Regions from separate parts of the Homo sapiens genome. Here region 2 is linked to region 1. Evidence: fine-mapped expression QTL. Tissue or cell type: testis. Region 1 holds a variant in brackets; the other region holds the start of a gene. All regions are shown on one strand. Distances are from middle to middle.

Region 1 (4,262 bases):
CCTGGAATGTAGTCAGTGTCCAGAGAAAGAAATGCAAAGGATTATTCGTCTGAGACAAGTGTATCAATTAGGGATTCTTATGTGCAAATTACAAAAGACCAAACTTAATTGGCTTAAATAGCAGATTATTGTTTTATATAGCTGAGATGTTTAGCAGGAGATTTGACCTCAGGTAAGGCCAGAATTAGGGACTCCGGTGATATCAACAAGAGCTTTCTTTAGTATTGGCTTTATTTTCAACTCTTATCTGGAGCCCTCTGGCAGCTCCAGACTCCCCCTTATGGTAGCCAAAAGGCTATGGTAGCTGCAGGCTATATATTCTTCTTTTTTAAAAAAATTATTTATTTAGAGACAAGGTCTTGCTATGTTGCCCATGAAGGACTCAAACCCCTGGGCTCAGGCAACCCTCCTGCCTCAGCCCACGAGATGCTCAGATTACAGGCTTAATCCTGGCGAGGCCCCATCTTCATATTCAACACTATCCAGGGGAAGAGAGAGGGTTTCTTCTGGAGACTCTTCACAAACCTCTGATTGTTTCTGTCTTATTGGCCTGAATTGGGTCTTGGGTCCTTTTCTGAAACAATCATCACTGTTTGGAAGAATGGTTTAAGCCAGTGGTCCTTAACCTTTTTGGCAGAAGGGACTAGTTTTGTGGAAGACAATTTTCCCATGGACCAGGGCAGGGGGATGGTTTCTGGGTGATTCAAGTGCATTACATTTATTGTGTACTTTATTTCTATTATTATTACATTGTAATATATAGTGAAATAATTATGCATCTCACCATAATGTAGAATCAGTGGGAGCCCTGAGCTTGTTTTCCTGCAACTAGACCGTCCCATCTGGGGGTGATGGAAGACAATGACAGATCATCAGGCATTAGATTCTCATAAGGAGGGTGCAACCTAGATCTCCTGCATGTGCAGTTCACAATAGGGTTCGCGCTTCTATGAGAATCTAATGCAGCTGCTGATCTGACAGGAGGTGGTACTCAGGCGGTAATAGGAGCAATGGGGAGCGGTTGTAAATACAGGTAAAACTTGGCTCATTTGCTCTCTGCTCACTTCCTCCTGTGCGACCTGGTTCCTAACAGGCTATAGACCCATACTGGTCTGTGGCCTAGGGGTTGAATCTGGAAAAGTATTAGGAAGGGAAATGGATGCTAGACAGCCAGTACATAATAACTGTCCACCAGAATAATCAACTGTTTATTTATGGACTACCTCCTACACGTCAGAATGGCTCTAAACATTTTACATGCAGCAACTCTTTTAATCCTAATAAAAGCCCTGTGAGGTACGAATATTTTTTTCTTTTTTCTTTTTCTTTTTTTCTTTTTTTTTTTTGTGATGGAGTCTTACTCTGTCGCCCAGGCTGGAGTGCAGTGATGTGATCTTGGCTCACTACAACCTCTGCCTCCTGGGTTCAAGTGATTCTCCTGCCTCAAACTCCCGAGTAGCTGGGATTACAGGCATCTGTCACCATGCCCAGCTAATTTTTGTATTTTTAGTAGAGATGGGGTTTCACCATGTTGGCCAGGCTAGTCTTGAACTTCTGACCTCAAGTGATC[C/T]AACCTCCTTGGCCTCCCAAAGTGCTGGGATTACAGGCATGAGCCACTGTCCCCAGCCTCCAATATTTTTTCTGTCCCCAGGTTGAGGCGACAGAGGCAGACAGAGACCAAGTAGGTGGCTCATTTGGCAAGCAGAAGTGAAGGGATGGCAGCCAAGCAGTCTGCATCCTCCAACCCTCTGGTCACAACACTGTGCCATGGTTTTTACCAGACTCAGGCTGGGAACCACAAGAAGTTCTGCTCTACGTAATCATTTCCCTAATACTATTTGCTGTAAACTGTATTTTCCCTTGAGATGCTTTTGAAAGAAGATGATGTTCCCATATTGCCCTAGATCATTCTACTTGGTTGAAAACTTTTGGGTAGTTTTTTTAATACTTTCATGCTTTTAGAATGCATGAGAAAGACAACCACTGTTTGCCTCAAATTACCCTTAAATGGCACTTATCTCTGCTCTATAAATATTTACTATCTGTTGGTGCATTGGATCTATGTTTCTAGTCTTTTGTCTGTAATGTTTTACTAGCAGCATGGCTAGTGTTGTTTTTCTTCACCCAGAGGTTTTGAAGAGGCAGAGTTTGTAGAGGGGGAAGCAGGTTGGGGGGAAGATGTCTATGAATCCCTGCTTTCTGATCTCCTTTCCTTCCCTTATATTTCCTCCTGCCTCTCTCTCTTCCTTTATCTATCTTTCAAACTAACAAATTCCCCCTTTTTATAAAAGTCTAATATGGTTAATTTTTTTTTTTTTTTGAGATGGAGTCTTGCTCTGTTGCCCAGGCTGGGGTGCCGTGGCACGATCTTGGCTCACTACAACCTCTGCCTCCTGGGTTCAAGTGATTCTCCTGCCTCAACCTCCCAAGTAGCTGGGATTACAGGCATGTGCCACCATGCCCAGCTAATTTTTGCATTTTTAGTAGAGACGTGGTTTTGCCATGTTGGCCAGGCTGGTCTTGAACTCCTGACTGAGTGATCTGCCCGCCTCGGCCTTCTAAAGTGCTGGGATTACAGGTGTGAGCCACTGCGGCTGGCTTTAATTTTTTTTTTTTTTTTTTTTTTTTTTTTTAATGTAGAAAGCACAGATGAGAAAAGGTAAGAAAGATCTCACATAGTCCCATCTTCCTCTTATCTTTTTGGTGTGCTGTTTTGCTTTTTGCACAGATACTAGATGACAACAACAAGCATTTCATAGCATTATTTTCCCTTTCAAAAGACAGCTAGAAGGTTTAAAAAAGTTAAGTATTCTTTAGCATCGTCATTTAAAATAGAGTAAATGTGCTTACGTTGCAGATGTGCCATAATTTAACCAATTCCCAGTTTGGGACAATTAAATTTGTTGCTAATATTTTGATGTTAAAACAGCTTTACTCATGAACATTTTTTGGCTAAATCCTTGCCCACGTTATCGGTGACTTCCTTAGTTTGCTGGGCAAGGATGTGTTCCCTTTGGTAAGTCATGCCTGCCTTTCCTCTGTTCACCTTCCAGGTATGGCAGTCTGCAATGTTAGTATGCACAGAAACTCATGGTGCCCTTGTGTGCCATCATCAGTACTCCAGCCCCTGTGGACTTCTGAAGGAGAGGATGCTGTGCTTCTCTTATAGGCCCAGTTCCTTTGTTTCCACATCTAGCTATGCAGAGATTTCCCATTTACACATTTTCAGTTTCAGGAGCAGAGTCTCAGGATGCAGGAACACAGCTGGTATCATTATTGTTTTTCTGCATATTGATAGTGGCAGCGTAATGTGATCCTTTTCCCTTGCGCAATGCTTTAGATAGCGCTCTGGATGTCCAGCTTGGGAAAAGGCCACATGAGACACACAACAAAGATATTTAGTAGGTGATCTCTTTGCTCTGTCATTTCCTGGGGCTGCTATGAATCATGTATTATGTTTGGCACTTTACTGGCTTTTAAAATAAATGTAATCTTTAATGCAACCTGTCAGGTATTTGTTACTTCTGATTTTATTAAAGAATGGCTTAGAGAATTCAAGTTAGTTTTTCTCAGCAAGAGTCTAAAGCCCAGCTTTTCGACGATTTCTTGTTGCCTTTACAGGTATTTAAACTGGTCAGAGAGATAAGTTCTGCACAAATGAAAATTCAAAAACATGGTATAAGGTATCTCTGCCAGACAGGCTTGTGCTCTGATGAAAGGAGGGAGAAAGTGTGGGCTGTGGCAGGCAGGAGGGTGTCTAATGATTATTATGCTTGATATGCAGCACCTTCGTGGGCCAAAGGGCATTTGGTTACATGAGAGTTTTCTTTGGATATAGGAAGTCCAGCAGGTTCACTTGAACCTGCAGGGACAAGGGAGAGCTGCATCCCGAGTCTGAGCCCCATCTAAACTGCAAGCCAGCTGATCAAGTACCAGCTCTAATCCTTACCCCAACAGCGGCTGTCTATTTGGGGAATTTCCTGAGTTTAAGAACCCCAAGCATCTGAGCTACCGAGTGGGCTGGAAACACAAACGTTGTCGTGACACTTGGGGGTATTTTTTTTATAATTGTATATGTCACAATTTCCTACTACCAGATCAAAGAGTCTGAGGGCCAAAGAATTCAGGTGGAGACTTCCCCACAGTACTCAGGGCATACCTGAGGGTCATCTTTCCAGTCTATATTTTTGTACTTTTGAGCCCACACTGTGACATTTAAGGTGAACAACAGCGAGATTCTCAAGTCCCCTGTATGTGCAACG
Region 2 (4,282 bases), 40 kb before region 1:
CAAGACAGTTGAATCTTTTCTAAGACTTGAGGTCCCTCTGGAGGGTTCTGAGGAAGGTCTAGGAAAGCCGGGATTGGTTCTGGATGGGTTGCTGTTTGTAAAGAAGGATTGGGAGAAACTGATTAGGGACTAAGTGCTGTTATGAGTGAGGGTGGTTTAGCAATTGAGTATTTCCAGTAATAGGAATAGCAAAGCTGGTCTGAGGGCATCATTAGTAAGAAAACAGTGGTTATTCAGAGAGGGTGGTTATGGTTTACAGCTGCTGCATGACCTTAGGAGAAACAATGCTTTCTGTTGGTGAAAAAAAGAAGACATCCTAAGACAAACCTTGCACCTCAAAACCTCTGTAGATAGAGAATCCCCACTTGGAAGCTATAGGTGTTGTGCAGATTTAGTCTTAAAAATTAACACTTTGAGTGCTGATAATATAATATGATGATGTAAAATTTAGGAGATACAGGAGGAAATAAAGGATGGGGATAAAGGAAAAAGAACAGTGAAGGGACAATAAAGGTATGCATATTTTTCTGTCTTTCCTCTTTTCTTCACCTTAAGTTAGGCTCTTTTCTTATAACCTAGTATAATGTCCAGCATTTAATAGGTATTCAATAAATATTTGTGAATGAATGAATCATTCAATCAATATTGGTCCTGAAATGCCAGGGAAAAAGAGATGATGAACTGGCATATATTGAGAACCATGTCTATGTCAGGTATAGTGTCAAGCCTTTCGTGAAAGAGTAATATGGAATCAACTCCTCTCTCTCAGCTGATCTGCAGCTTAAAATGCATATATGGTGAACTGTGGGAAGCGGAGTTTGAATGACACAGGTCAGCCTTATGTTTTAATTTATATCTTCATCTTGTAGTTGTTCAATGTATTCCATTTTACTATAGAAACAGGAAAAGGTCGTCAACTTTTTCAAGCAAAATTTCTTTTCATATCTGGGAAATTGGAATTCCTTTTTTATATCTTTATTATCTCTCTGATATTCTCTTGCTCCCTGGCCAAGCCCTTCCAGGCAACTTTGGTTAATATATTATTGAGATGTTAGAGGTTTAAAATAAATCACTATCAAAGGATAGAATTTTAAGGGAAGACTAAATTATGTATTCATTAGAATCATAATTTTGTTCCTAAGACAGATTCGTGATGGTATAATAGAAACAGTGTCTTAGCCTGAAGTATTGAGGATAGTCCTAAGATTAGGGAACGATCAGTTCGTTCTTAATCATAAGCATAAGAGAATGACTCAAACGCTGCTGTTTGATCTACCTGTACTTACATTTCTTCTTAATTTTAAATTCTTCTCTGCTAGTATTCTTTAGACCCAACATTGGTTGTTTCCCCTATTTCTTCAATATTTCTATTTATTTTCCATCCTTTTTACAGGGTCATCTAAATAAAAATATCTTAAAGCAATAAACCATTGTTATTGAGTCAGTACCTCAGTCCATGCAGCTTAATAATATGGAGAGCAAAAAAAAAAAGCCTCTCGATTTATTTTTTAATATTACACGATCCTAGTTTTTTCTTCCCAGAAAACGTGCCACAAAGTTTGCAAGAAAGAGCTTTTGGGGCGGAGCCCTGGCTGCTTAGGTCCTTTCCATTGGTTCTACTTGGTGACCACGCCCACGGCCCCGCCTCCTGGGCGGAAGAGCCAATTGGGCCGCGAGTTGTGGTTTAAACCAGGAGTGCGCCGCGTCCGTTCACCGCGGCCTCAGATGAATGCGGCTGTTAAGACCTGCGTGAGTGAATGGGAGGGTCGCGGGTGGTTAGTTGAGCCGGCTCCGGCGGGGAAGGAGGCGGGCTGCGGCTGCGGCTGGGGCTGAAGCTGGGGCTGGGGTTGGGGGACTGCCCGGGGCTTAGATGGCTCCGAGCCCGTTTGAGCGTGGTCTCGGACTGCTAACTGGACCAACGGCAACTGTCTGATGAGTGCCAGCCCCAAACCGCGCGCTGCTCGGGACCTTAGAGCCTCTGACTCAGGCTGGAAGATTTGAGAGCTGGATTAAGTACTTGTTGGCTCACGCCCGTGACTGTTCCGCTGTTTAGCTCTTGTTTTTTGTGTGGACACTCCTAGGATAGAAAGTTTGGTATGTTGCTATACCTTTGCTTCTCCCACCTTCCCCAATATCTAATATGTATTTCTCATTCTTAGAATAATCCAGAATGGCTACTCTGATCTATGTTGATAAGGAAAATGGAGAACCAGGCACCCGTGTGGTTGCTAAGGATGGGCTGAAGCTGGGGTCTGGACCTTGTAAGTATACAAGGCTGCAGTCGGATACACTGGTATTGTGGACGTGGCCTGGAGCTGGACGAGACATTTAGTGTACTTTTTGGGCAATTGGAGTCGTTTGTTATTGGTCCTTTTTCATTTTTAATATCTTAATGAGATGATTTAAGGAAGTTACTGAATCTCTGCTATTAGGCCTATCATAGCCATGCCACTACCAAAAGTGGGGGGTGGGTTTGGGGGTGAGAGGTCAAGTTTATATACACAGTATTTAAGTTGTACAGGTATTTTGCTGCTGGAATATTCTTATGGTAAGACTTTTTCTTCAGCAATCAAAGCCTTAGATGGGAGATCTCAAGTTTCAACACCACGTTTTGGCAAAACGTTCGATGCCCCACCAGCCTTACCTAAAGCTACTAGAAAGGCTTTGGGAACTGTCAACAGAGCTACAGAAAAGTCTGTAAAGACCAAGGGACCCCTCAAACAAAAACAGCCAAGCTTTTCTGCCAAAAAGGTAAGTGTTGGCTATAAAGACACTGTTTAAACACTTAAGCACTTTTGACTCTTAAAATGACTATTGGCATCATCCTACGTAGCTTTCTTCCCTCTGAGTAGAAGGGAAATAGAGGTTAGCAAGCAGAGTAGTGGAGGAGACTCAGATTGTCCTTGTGGACTTCTTGGTACCTTGAGATTGGAAATCTCAGATGCAGCTAATGCATATTTTTGCCTCATGCATATTTTTGCCTCACCTGTCCTTCACTAGTGTCGTGAAACTGGTTGGTGGTGTCTACTTACAGATACATACTGAGAGAGAGGGTGCCTTAAGAGAAACTGGTTGGTGGTATCCACTTACAGATACATACTGAGAGAGAGGGTGCCTTAAGAGGTTCTGTTGCTGCTTTAATAGCACAGGTGCTGCCATTCTCTTAGCCTTCCAGGGCAAGCAGCAGCTTGTTAGGTGACAATTTGCTAGCATGTTGATCTTCGTGTGAGTGTGAGTCACAAGCTACAGGTCTGTGTATCCCAGATGAGAGGACTTTGCTGTGAAAGATGACATTAGCATGTGGATTAACACTTTATTTGAATAACTGTTTTGTTTAATTTGCATTAGGAAACAACTAGTGAATTACATATAGTGCAACTTAGGACAAAGATGTCTTCTTTAAAAAGTGAATTAACTTAAAGAAAAATATTAAATACAGGAATTGCAAAGACATGGCAAAAACAATGAGACACAGAACCGAAGTGTGAGAACCCCATAGGGAATTCTAGGCATGCATATGTGAGGTGAGATAAAGCAGGAACATGCCGGCTTCCATTGTAGCACCCTTCTATAGTAGACTGTAGTAGACCTGTCAACTCCAGACTAGAAGATTGCCCATGGTGTTTATTCTAAAGTCCTTGACAGTGTCTTGCTGCCTCTTACTCAGTGTGTGTATTTGAGGAACACAAACTTGTTTTTAATATTAACCAAGCAAATAATTTAAGGTAACACTTGTGGAAAAAATCACACTCCTATAAGCCAAAAATGGCTTTGATGATTAGCTACTATCCTGGGTGATTCATGCCCATTTTCTCCTCTGTTAGGTTGAATAATTGCATTGATTAGCTCTGAATTAACTGCATTCTTGATCACTTATGCTGACAGGTGCTGGTACTTAAATTTCAGATTTTAACTTTTGAGTCATGCTACTCGAATTACATTTGAATCATATTATTTGAAGTATATTTAGGTGCAATTATGAAAACTAAGGATTATGGCTTCTTAGAAGGCAGCATGAAATTGACAAATTTAAAAACTAATCAGCTAATAAGACTTCCACTGTCACTAACCCATATTTTCTTTGGCTGTTCTAGATGACTGAGAAGACTGTTAAAGCAAAAAGCTCTGTTCCTGCCTCAGATGATGCCTATCCAGAAATAGAAAAATTCTTTCCCTTCAATCCTCTAGGTAGTATCTTTTGCAATTGCGAAAAGTGCTTTTGGCCTTTAGTTTCTTAGTATTCAGCTCAGCTGTAACTTGTTATGAATATAATATATGACCA

The links. PIP is the estimated chance that this variant, and not a neighbour inherited with it, causes the effect.
Region 2: PTTG1 starts here. The variant in region 1 is the best candidate, but not a certain one, in a credible set for the expression of PTTG1 in testis (GTEx, PIP 0.82).

Annotation. Positions count from the first base shown.
Region 1 is chr5:160,460,574-160,464,835 of GRCh38, forward strand. No RefSeq gene overlaps it. Among named protein-coding and RNA genes, the nearest start is that of MIR3142HG, 5.5 kb to the right of the region's middle. RefSeq lists an enhancer at 1,862-1,941. The variant C/T (reference allele first, on the strand shown) is at 1,571.
Region 2 is chr5:160,420,143-160,424,424 of GRCh38, forward strand. It overlaps PTTG1 (PTTG1 regulator of sister chromatid separation, securin), which reads left to right and starts at 1,713. Exons shown (of 6, transcript NM_004219.4): 1 at 1,713-1,749; 2 at 2,160-2,261; 3 at 2,567-2,751; 4 at 4,095-4,188. The coding sequence starts at 2,171. RefSeq lists silencers at 1,548-1,607, 1,708-1,867 and an enhancer at 1,962-2,518.